Homo sapiens: one gene and its partner. The protein of the gene in region 2 interacts with the protein of the main gene of each other region in a biochemical or structural test. Each region holds a gene or a part of one and is shown on either strand. Other genes may lie near its edges.

Evidence for each region. The genes of interacting proteins can lie anywhere in the genome.
Region 1: the proteins of TRIM49 (region 2) and LGALS3 form a complex in vitro, tested with the Homo sapiens proteins (one study listed by BioGRID).

Annotation. Positions count from the first base shown.
Region 1 is NC_000014.9:55,139,194-55,142,989, reverse strand, and holds part of LGALS3 (galectin-3), read right to left. Parts: intron 2,716-3,796; coding exon 2,627-2,715; intron 407-2,626; coding exon 241-406; intron 1-240. UniProt on the Homo sapiens protein: Galactose-specific lectin which binds IgE. May mediate with the alpha-3, beta-1 integrin the stimulation by CSPG4 of endothelial cells migration.
Region 2 is NC_000011.10:89,804,688-89,810,757, reverse strand, and holds the start of TRIM49 (tripartite motif-containing protein 49), read left to right. Parts: upstream 1-2,182; 5' UTR 2,183-2,321; intron 2,322-3,473; 5' UTR 3,474-3,659; intron 3,660-6,070.

The DNA of each region.
Region 1 (3,796 bases), on a different chromosome or scaffold from region 2:
TTAAACTCAGAGGGGTGGCAGCAGTGATGATGGAGAGGTGCCTGAAAGGAACTGGGGAGTGTGCCACTCCTGGCCATGTTCTCAGCCTGCTGAGCCTGGTCCCCTGGGCAGGGAGAAGATAAACTGGTTAGGCACCTTAGGAGAGGTGATAAAAACTCTCACTTCAAGTGCTTTGGGGTTTTAGAGTGATTCCTCATGAGAAATATACATTATCAATATATAATAGTAGCAATAACTTACTTTGAATGGTTTCCCACTTTCAAATGGGAAAACCGACTGTCTTTCTTCCCTTCCCCAGTTATTATCCAGCTTTGTATTGCAAACAATGACTCTCCTGTTGTTCTCATTGAAGCGTGGGTTAAAGTGGAAGGCAACATCATTCCCTCTTTGGAAATCTAAAGCAATTCTGTTTTAAACCAAAGACCAGTTATTAAAATGATTAAAGCTGTACATTTGCACTGTGTAAAGAACATGTAATTTTCTAAAAAGCAAATAATTTCATAATACAGTACCTAGGAAATTTTTCTGAATGGAAAGCAAATAAATCAGAATGGGTTCAAACTGGAAAATATCCTATGCCTGATATTCTATGTACTATCACAAAATCTAAAGGTAAGCAAGACAATAGATGTTGAATTTTTTGCCTCATTGTCTTCGATCATATTTCCATTCATCTGTAATGCCCCTACAGACTCATGAAAACCCTTCGAGGTTTTCTTACAGAGGTTTAGAGCCACTCTGAGGACACTTTATCCCTTACTATAGATAATGGTTATCTCTTTCCTGCTCTTCCAGTTTGCTTTCAATACCTGGTAAAGGCAAGCCAGCTATATAGTTAACAGCCATCAAATACCTGGCTTCCTCATAATTAACCAGAAGCCCTAGTTCCTCTAAAACAGCAAGAATGAGATAAGGTAGTTAATATTCAGTATCTTGTTGCTAAGTTGTAAAGTCATGATAGTAAATGTGGTAAACATTCTATGATGTGAGCCAGAACCAATGAAATTGCTAGTTTAGCTTTTTGACCCTGTTCCTTCTCCCTGGAGGTTAATGCAAACACAAGTCCTCTTTGACTAACCCCATCCCTGAGTTTCTCAAAGTGCGCTCTATAGAGCGGTAACACCAGAGTCATCAGTAGGTATTCGTATTTTAATCTGCACTCTAGACCAACTAACAAAGATTGTCTGTGTATTTTGATTCACCCAGTAACAGTCACATTCAACCACAAATGATCTTCCAGTGATTAAATTTGTAAGGAAAAAACAGCATAGAATTTGTATTTGACTAAATATACAATGTTGTCATCTCTGTCACCTTAAGCACTTTTTTTTTCTACACAGTTCGTCATATAGAATTTGCAGGACTAAGCAACAGTTTTTTTTAAGTTTACTACCATTAACCATTTCAACCAGAATTAGTTTTGATCTGCCAGTCTCAATCTACATCTCTAGCATTATTAGAACTAAACTTTCCAGTGAAATGACTCTAACAAGACAAGGATACCAAACTGGGTATTCAGTGTGCGTTAGGGGTTGTGGGAGGAGGAGAGCAGATATTTAATAAATCATGAGTGCTGTGTGCACAGGATAAGGTGTGCTGGGTTCTATGTGATGTTGGGAGGAAATACGGATAAGGACATAGGTAGAGGATGTATATATTTTGTAATTTGCTATGAGACGGGCATTATTGTACGGGGAAGTTCTGTGCTTACAGAAATTGTCTAGGCTGTGTGGAAAGATGGGTTGGCTTAGGATAGTGACTACCATTGCAGAAGCAGAGGAGGCTGGCTGAGGTGGAGGGAATGAGCATTTGAATGTGAAATTATCAGATCAGAAGTGAAGTCCATCTCTTGATTGCAGGATGTGGAGCAAGGTGACAGACACTGAGACTGTTTATGGATTCTTGCATAAACCTGTGTACATGGCTTGAATTTGTGCCATTTAGGTACTGTCCATAAGACCTAGAGACAGTTCCACTAACCTTAGGGGCAGGCATCTCAGATGGTTTCAGGACATGGCCAGCTTCCTTGTATGATATGTAAGTACTACATAACCAGTGGTGACAACCAGGGCCAAGCAGCCCAGGACAGCCATAATTAGCATGTATTTTCCTAAATAAAGCCTCACCCCATCCTAGCCCACCTCATCAATCAAACTACTTCCAATAGTAAAGGTTGATTTATAATGATGAAGTTTTTAACTTGTAGAATCTCTTCAAACCCATAAGCAAATAGTATCTGCTCAAAAGACGGGTTCCCAGGCCTGCCACTGATCATCTGTAGAACCTGAACCTCAGTTTTGTCTATAAAAAGGGGAGAGCAATATTCCTTATCCTGCCTTCAGCCATGAAGATTAGCTGACATAATACATATCAAAGTATAGAATAAGGTGTGTTACCGTTTACTATGAGTGCCATGATGCTTAGCAAAATTATATGGGAATATGTATGGATTTATGGGATAATCCTATATGATGGTATAGCCAAGATTCTAAATATGTAGTTTTTAAAATTTTACTAAAATTCAAAATAGCACTGTAAGACAGGGCAAGAAGAAAAAAAGTAGGCCATTCTTTATTCAAAAACCAATCTACAAATAGAGTAGACTTGTTAATTTTGCTCTCCTTACCTGTTTGCATTGGGCTTCACCGTGCCCAGAATTGTTATCAGCATGCGAGGCACCACTCCCCCAGGCAAAGGCAGGTTATAAGGCACAATCTGGGAATTAACAAGTACATATGTGTCAATAAGGAGTCATGTTTCTTTGGGGAAAAAACGATGTTGCTAAAGTTCCATCACTATTAATATGTGTGAAAAACACATAACTCTAGTATATGCCATCTGTCCAGACTCTCAGGCCACTTTGCCCAGGGGCCAAAGAGATAAGGCTCCCTAGATGTACAAATAATTGAAAAGAAAGCCATCAGTAAATCTCATTACTACGGCCATCCCAATTTGTACTCATTCATGTTGACTATTTTTGGAAAGGCTTAAGCTAGATCTTGTGATCAACATTAACATTTTTGTATCACTCTTAAGGCCCTGTCATGGTACATGCTTTACTGTGGATATTCTGCTTCCTGGGGGCAAGCAGCATATCACATTCTGGGCTTGTGGGTTCTCATATGCTTTGTACTCACATGGCTCCAGCAGAGTGCTTTGCATATGGCAGATACTCAATATTTATGGAATGAACACTGTTAACACTGTGAGGTTCATTCCACAAATGTTTATTGACCAACTACATTCAAGGTACTGTGAATATCCCCAAAGCTCTATTTATTTATGGCCTCTTTTCTTTCCCTTTTTAAGACTTCCCCCTGGGTTTAACTATCACCCAAACCTTTTTATTTTTTGAGACAAGGTCTCAAAAATCCGAGTCTCAGTTGTTGAGGATGGAGTGCAGTGGTGTGATCATAGCTCACTGCAGCCTCAACCTCTTGGACTCAAGTGATCCTCCTGCCTCAGCCTCCCACAGTGGTGGGATTACAGGCATGAGCCACCACACCCAGCCTATCCAAATATTTTCTTTCTAGTCCTGGTGTGTACTAGTCCTGTACTTCCTCCCACCTAGATTTGCTGCTAGTGCCTCAAATTCAACAAGTGTGAACTAGAATGGTCTTCCCTACCCCCTCCCCCATCAGTTCCCCTTCATGAGTTCCCAGTTTGGGCTAAAGCTTTGCTGATGGCTCTAGTTGCTCAGCCTTGAAAAGTCAGAGTCCTCTATGACTCCTAAGACATAATCAGTAGATTCTGGGGGTTCTTCCTCTGTAATCTCTCTTACATCTGCCTGTTCCTT
Region 2 (6,070 bases):
AGAATGTAGGCTGAACCTCACCTGAACACACAAGCACAGAAGGAATCATATGTGTTTCTGTGGCTCTAAGTGAGAAAATACGTTGAGAGATTTGAGGATTTATGGAGTTGACGACATGTAATTGATCCCTGAATCCATCCCATACAGGAAACAGGACCATAAAAAGATTGCTTACGACCGGGCGCGGTGGCTCACGTCTGTAATCCCAGCACTTTGGGAGGCTGAGGCGGGCGGATCACGAGGTCAGGAGATTGAGACCATCCTGGCTAACACAGTGTAATCCCGTCTCTACTAAAAGTACAAAAAAATTAGCCGGGCATGGTGGCGGGCGCCTGTAGTCCCAGCTACTCGGGAGGCTGAGGCAGGAGAATGGAGTGAACCCGGCAGGTGGAACTTGCAGTGAGCCAAGATCACGCCGCCACTGCACTCCAGCCTGGGCGACAGAGTGAGACTCGGACTCAACAACAACAACGAAAAGCTTACCTTTTATGTGCTCATATGTAAAGTTGGGACAATGCTACACATATTGCATGTTTTCTGTGGAGATTAGGAACAATGTGTGCATGGAGACAGCACAGTAACTGGTACATCATAGCCCATGTATCACATTGTCCCCTTCCTTTTTCTAACATATTTCTCTCCACTCAAATAGATAAGAGGTTTCAAGAGAAAATGACTGGGGTTTGTAGAAAAATAGACAATAAACGGGTAAAACAATTGAGAAGAAATGCCAAAAAAAAAAAAAGCGTTAAAGAAAAGATAGCCCTGGACATTCAGGATCCACAAAGCAAAATATAAATTTGTGGAAAATTAATAAATTTTGTTAGCATGGGAAAAAATATGCAGAATTCTCTCCATGTGCGCAAATAAAACAAACAAAATGTCAAAGTAGTTATAATACCTAGGTTTTAAATGGTATTTATCATAGAATGGCATTTTTATAAAAATTTAAAAATTTCCAGAATTAAATAAAGTCAGATTTCTACATATGTTAAGGAACGAGAAATAGATCACCAACTTTCATACAAAGATTTTCCAATGAGTTTTAGAACCCAGATGAACAAAAGAGTCTATTACCAGATTCTCAAAAATAGATGTGTAATTCAACAGAAAACTTTGTGGTAGAGGTAGGTTTCAGATGCTAGAATGGAAACAGTCTCATGTACAAAAAAGTATCTTTTTTATTAAAAGGAGAAGCACTGGGAAATAAGGAAATATTCCAAATTGGCTGGAGTGTCCTTTATCCACATCACGGATTGTTCTTGCCTATACCCACCTCTACTCTCTCTTCTGGATTGGGTAGGACTTTTGGAACCTACAAAATGCCAACTCTAAAGAGAATTACTTTCTTATATTTGTTTCATGGTCTGAGACTCAAGTAGGAAAATAGGTTGTTTCCTTGATAATGCCACAGTAGACAGAGGTAGGTCTGTAATTGAAAGCTCCTAATTTCCAGTGCTCTAGGCTTCAACTGCCTAAAGCTGAGTGTTTGAATAAGTGAATGATGTGGTGCAAAAAGTGGTTGAAATAAAATCAGAAGCTACCTACCTTCCTTTCTCTCCTTGCCCTAATTCCTTCCTGATACACAGCATCATCAGACCTTGTAATGGAGTACCAGGGCCCCGCCACGGAGCTCCAGAATTTAAGCAGAGAATGTCCACAGGATCAAGTCCATGACCCAGGGTTTCACAAGTTTCCCACTCTGGAGTCCAGGACTGAGCCAAGAGGGCCCCCACACACAACCAGCGCAGATCTTACTTCTGTGTGGACACTTTGGTTAATTACTTAGATTTATTGAGGTACAGAATGTGCATACAGGGTGGTCAGTCAGTTGGTGGTCTTGGATAGTAAACTGACAATAGAACAAGAAAATCTATTGTTCAATTCCTTGTATTTAATTAAATATAAACTCTGGATGATTTTATGATGTGTCAACTTGAGTACATGTATGTACAAAGAGGGAAATGAGGGCAGTAGCCATTTTGTGGCATAGACATACCTTATTATTCTTCAATGAAACACTTACTTAGGACCTGCTGGAAAGGCATTTTGCAGATGCGAGCAAAGGTCCTAATCCTGTAACTAGGAAGTGTACCCAAGTAAGCCTGACTTCATCAGTGAAAGTCCTTTAAAGAAACACATAGGCATTCCTTGAACAACATTTTAAATGGCAAATGGGACTCTAATCTTCCAGTTGCCCCCTATTGACTTTAAACCAAAGCTTTGATTCATGACCACTGGGATCCAGCCAGCGGGGGATTTCTTTTCCTGATGGACTGTACCCAGGATCTCACATTTGCTTAAGCAGCTCCCACAATTGGGTAAGTCAAGTCTTTGCACTTAATTCATATGTGAATCTCCCTAACTATACATATATCTTATGGGTTCTGCTTTTGTCTTTGAACCTGGACAGACCTGGGTCTGATAGATTTGTCTTCACTGTTTTGACAGTCTTGACCATAAGTCTTCTGGACCATTGGCAAAGAATTCCTCTATCAGAAGATATTTGAGTAGTCCCTTCTGAAATCTCTTTTTTAAAAAAAATAATTTTCATATAACAACAAAAAGACTTGGCATAGAAAGAAAAATATAGTCCATCTCTATCATTTGGATTCTGTATTTGTGAATTTGCCTATATGCTAAAAGTTATGTGTAATCCCCAAAATAATTCCCGTGGTGCACTCCTAGTCATTGTAGGACATCATGCACTATATGGAGAAAAACGTTAAAATCATAACTCATCTTTCACCCATGAGACTGGTGAAGTTTTGTAAATTCAATGAGAGACCCCAGGTTAGTGGGTTTATTTGGTTAATCAGTGATTTCTCTTAGAGTGGTAGAAAACAGAAAACAAAAAGGAAAGTTTTATCTTCCATTGGACTTCTCTGGAAATATCCTATAAATGTACTAAAGCAGCATTTAAGCTGGATGAGGTGGTTTATACCTGTACTCTTAGCACTTTGGAAGGCCGAGACCAGAGGACCACTTGAAGCCAGGAGTTGGAGAACAGCATGGGCTACAGAGTCATACACTGACTTTACCAAAAATTTCAACAAAAAAAATTAGCCAGGTGATATAGTGTGAGCCTAAAGTCGTAGCTACTTGGAAGGCTGAAGCAGGAGGATTACTTGGAATTCAAGGCTGCAGGGAGCTATGATTATGCTACTGCACTCCAGAAGGAGACCCTTTCTCTAGAATAAATAAATGTGCACTTAGAGGAATGCCTGTATCATGGAAGAAACTCAATAAACAGTATAAAATGCATCTTAGTTAATTTCTAGCCTATGTATGCTCTGACAGGATTTATGTTACATATGATTCATTCAGGCACTGGTGTTCAGAATGAAAGTGTGATGATAATTTAATCAGAGCTGCAAAGGTGTGTTCTAAATACTGCATAAACCTAATCATCTTTGTCTCCACCTTTCTGAATGCTCTAAATACCCATAAAGAGGTGGGTGTGGTCTTCACAGGTTCTTATAAAAGGACACGGAAGAGACAAGCTCAGTTTTCTCTGAAGGAGAAGGACTGCACTTAGAACTGCATTTTGGCGACCTCTGAAATTCAGTACTGCAGTGAATGAGCTTCTGATCTTGAGGTGAACTTAACAAAATTATTTTTGGAAAAATCGTTGTGGGAACCATTAAAAGAACTCCAGGGTGAGTGAAACATATTGATAAAATTATATCATCTTTCCTTTACACAATAATAAATTAGAGTGTTAAAAATATCTCATTATCTGAAATCTACACAATGATACCATTTGTAACTCATGTTCTTACTATAGATTTTATGAATTATAAGGATACTAATTGTTGTTATTTTGTGCTTTCTATGATTGTTTAATATAGTTCTGAAAAACTTAAAATATCTAGTGTTTGCTGCAACAGATATGTATTCATAATGAATATATGGAGTTGATACATATATGTACACATAGGTGTGTGTGTATATGTATGTAATGAGTGTATTAATATTGTCAAATTGAATTGAGAAGACATTAATGAATGATGAAGTTATTTGCTTTCATAACATTCAGGTTTTAGACATGACTTTAAATTAGTAAGGTAATGATGAGCGATGCAAAATAGTGAAACTAAAACAATGAGAAAGCTCCCCAAAATATCCTACTTTAGAAATCAAAACACAATTTTTCGAACAAGTAAATTTATAAGACCTAATATGGTATGTGATTGTGATTGTCATCTCACTTGAGTCTCAATCTTATTAAACTGTGAAAAATTTCTTAAAATGTCTTAGATGAGTTCTGGAAAATATTTGCAATTCTAAGATTTTTCACTGCTTTCACTTAAATTCAGAAGTGATATAAAACTAGCAGCTTTATGCTGCTTTATGCTAAAGGATTTAAAATTGCCAAAACAAAGATTATAGTTTTTATATTAGTCAGGGTTCTCCAGACAGAACCATAGGATGTATACATATATGTGTGCAGATACATTCATGGGCCATTTGAGTCAGCCACAAACCACATATGGGGGTCCCATAAGATTATAATACCAATATGTTTACTGTACCTTTTCTGTATTCAATTATGTTTAGATACACAAATAGTTATCATTGTGTTACAGTTGCCTACAGTATGCAGTACAGAACATACTGTACAGGTTTGTAGCCTATTGTAGGAACAATAGGCTATAGTGTATACCATAGGTGTAGTAGGCTATACCATCTAGATTTGTGTGGTATATTCTATCATATTAAAACAATGAAACCGCCGGGCTGGGCACTGTGGCGCGTGCCTAGAATCCCAGCACTTTGCAAAGCCAAGGCAGGCAGATCACTTGAGGCCAGAAGTTCAAGTGCAGCCTGGCCAAGATGGCAAAACCCCATCTCTACTAAAAAAATACAAAAATTAGCCAGGCCTAGTGTCACGTTCCTGTAATCCCAGGTACTTGGGAACCTGATGCAGGAGAATCGCTCTGAACCTGGAGGCGGAGGTTACAGTGAGCCGAGATCACGCCACTGCATTTCAGCCTGCGTGACAGAAGGATACTCTGTCTCAAAAAAAAAAAACAAAAAAAAACTAAAAACACCTGACACATTTCTCAGAACATACATCTGTCCACAAGCTATACATGATTCTACATGGGACAGAATTCATCAGGAAAATTAATTTGCTTGATTATGGAGTCTAGAGAGTTCCAATATAGGCTGTCTCTAAGCTGGTGTCCTGAGAATACCGGTATCCTGGCTAAGCTCAAGTCTGAAAGGTTCAGAACAAGTTTCAGGAGAGAGACGGAGGAAGTTGCCTTTTTTCTGCCTTTTTCTTTATATCTGAGGTGTCAGCTGATTGGATGGTGCCCACACACATTGAGAGATGAGGCTCCCACTCAGCTCACCAGCTCACATGTCTCTCTCCTCTAGAAACACCTTCACAGACTCACCCACAAACAATGCTTCACTAGTTCCCTAGGTGTTGGTTAATCCAGTCAGACTGATACCTAAAATTCACCATCACACTATGGAAATATAATTACACCTCTCTGAGTTTAACAAAAACCTCCTATATGTTAGTTCAGAGCTTGCACAGCCCTAGGGGAAGTTAATTTAATCCGCAAGAAAATAAAAAGACCCAATATCTTTAATAATTTTTCTTTTCCCTACTAGTGAAACTTGATTAGTTTAATTGCAGTCTTTTTCTTTGTTTATTTGGTTGGTTGGCTTTTTTTTAAATTTTGTTTTGATTTGGGTCTTTGTTTTTAATTTAATTTAATTTTAAGTCCTGGGATAACTGCAGGACTTGCAGGCTTGTTATGTAGGTAAACTTGTGCCATGGTGGTTTGCTGCCCGGCTTTTGTGACTCTCTATAAAAATATGTCATAGAACCATCTTCTCATATTTCTTTGGCCATCTTCTCATATTTCTTTGGCCCGGGTAGTTTTTTCCCTCCCACTCTTTCACAGTCATTCATCAGTTATTGAAAGAAGAATAGGGACAACTATGATTTATTCTGACCACTTAGAATCAAAACCCAATTTCCAGATCTATGTTCAGAAAATGGGTAGTTGAATAGGTTTGTATTATGCTACAGACAGGAACTAGGAGTAGA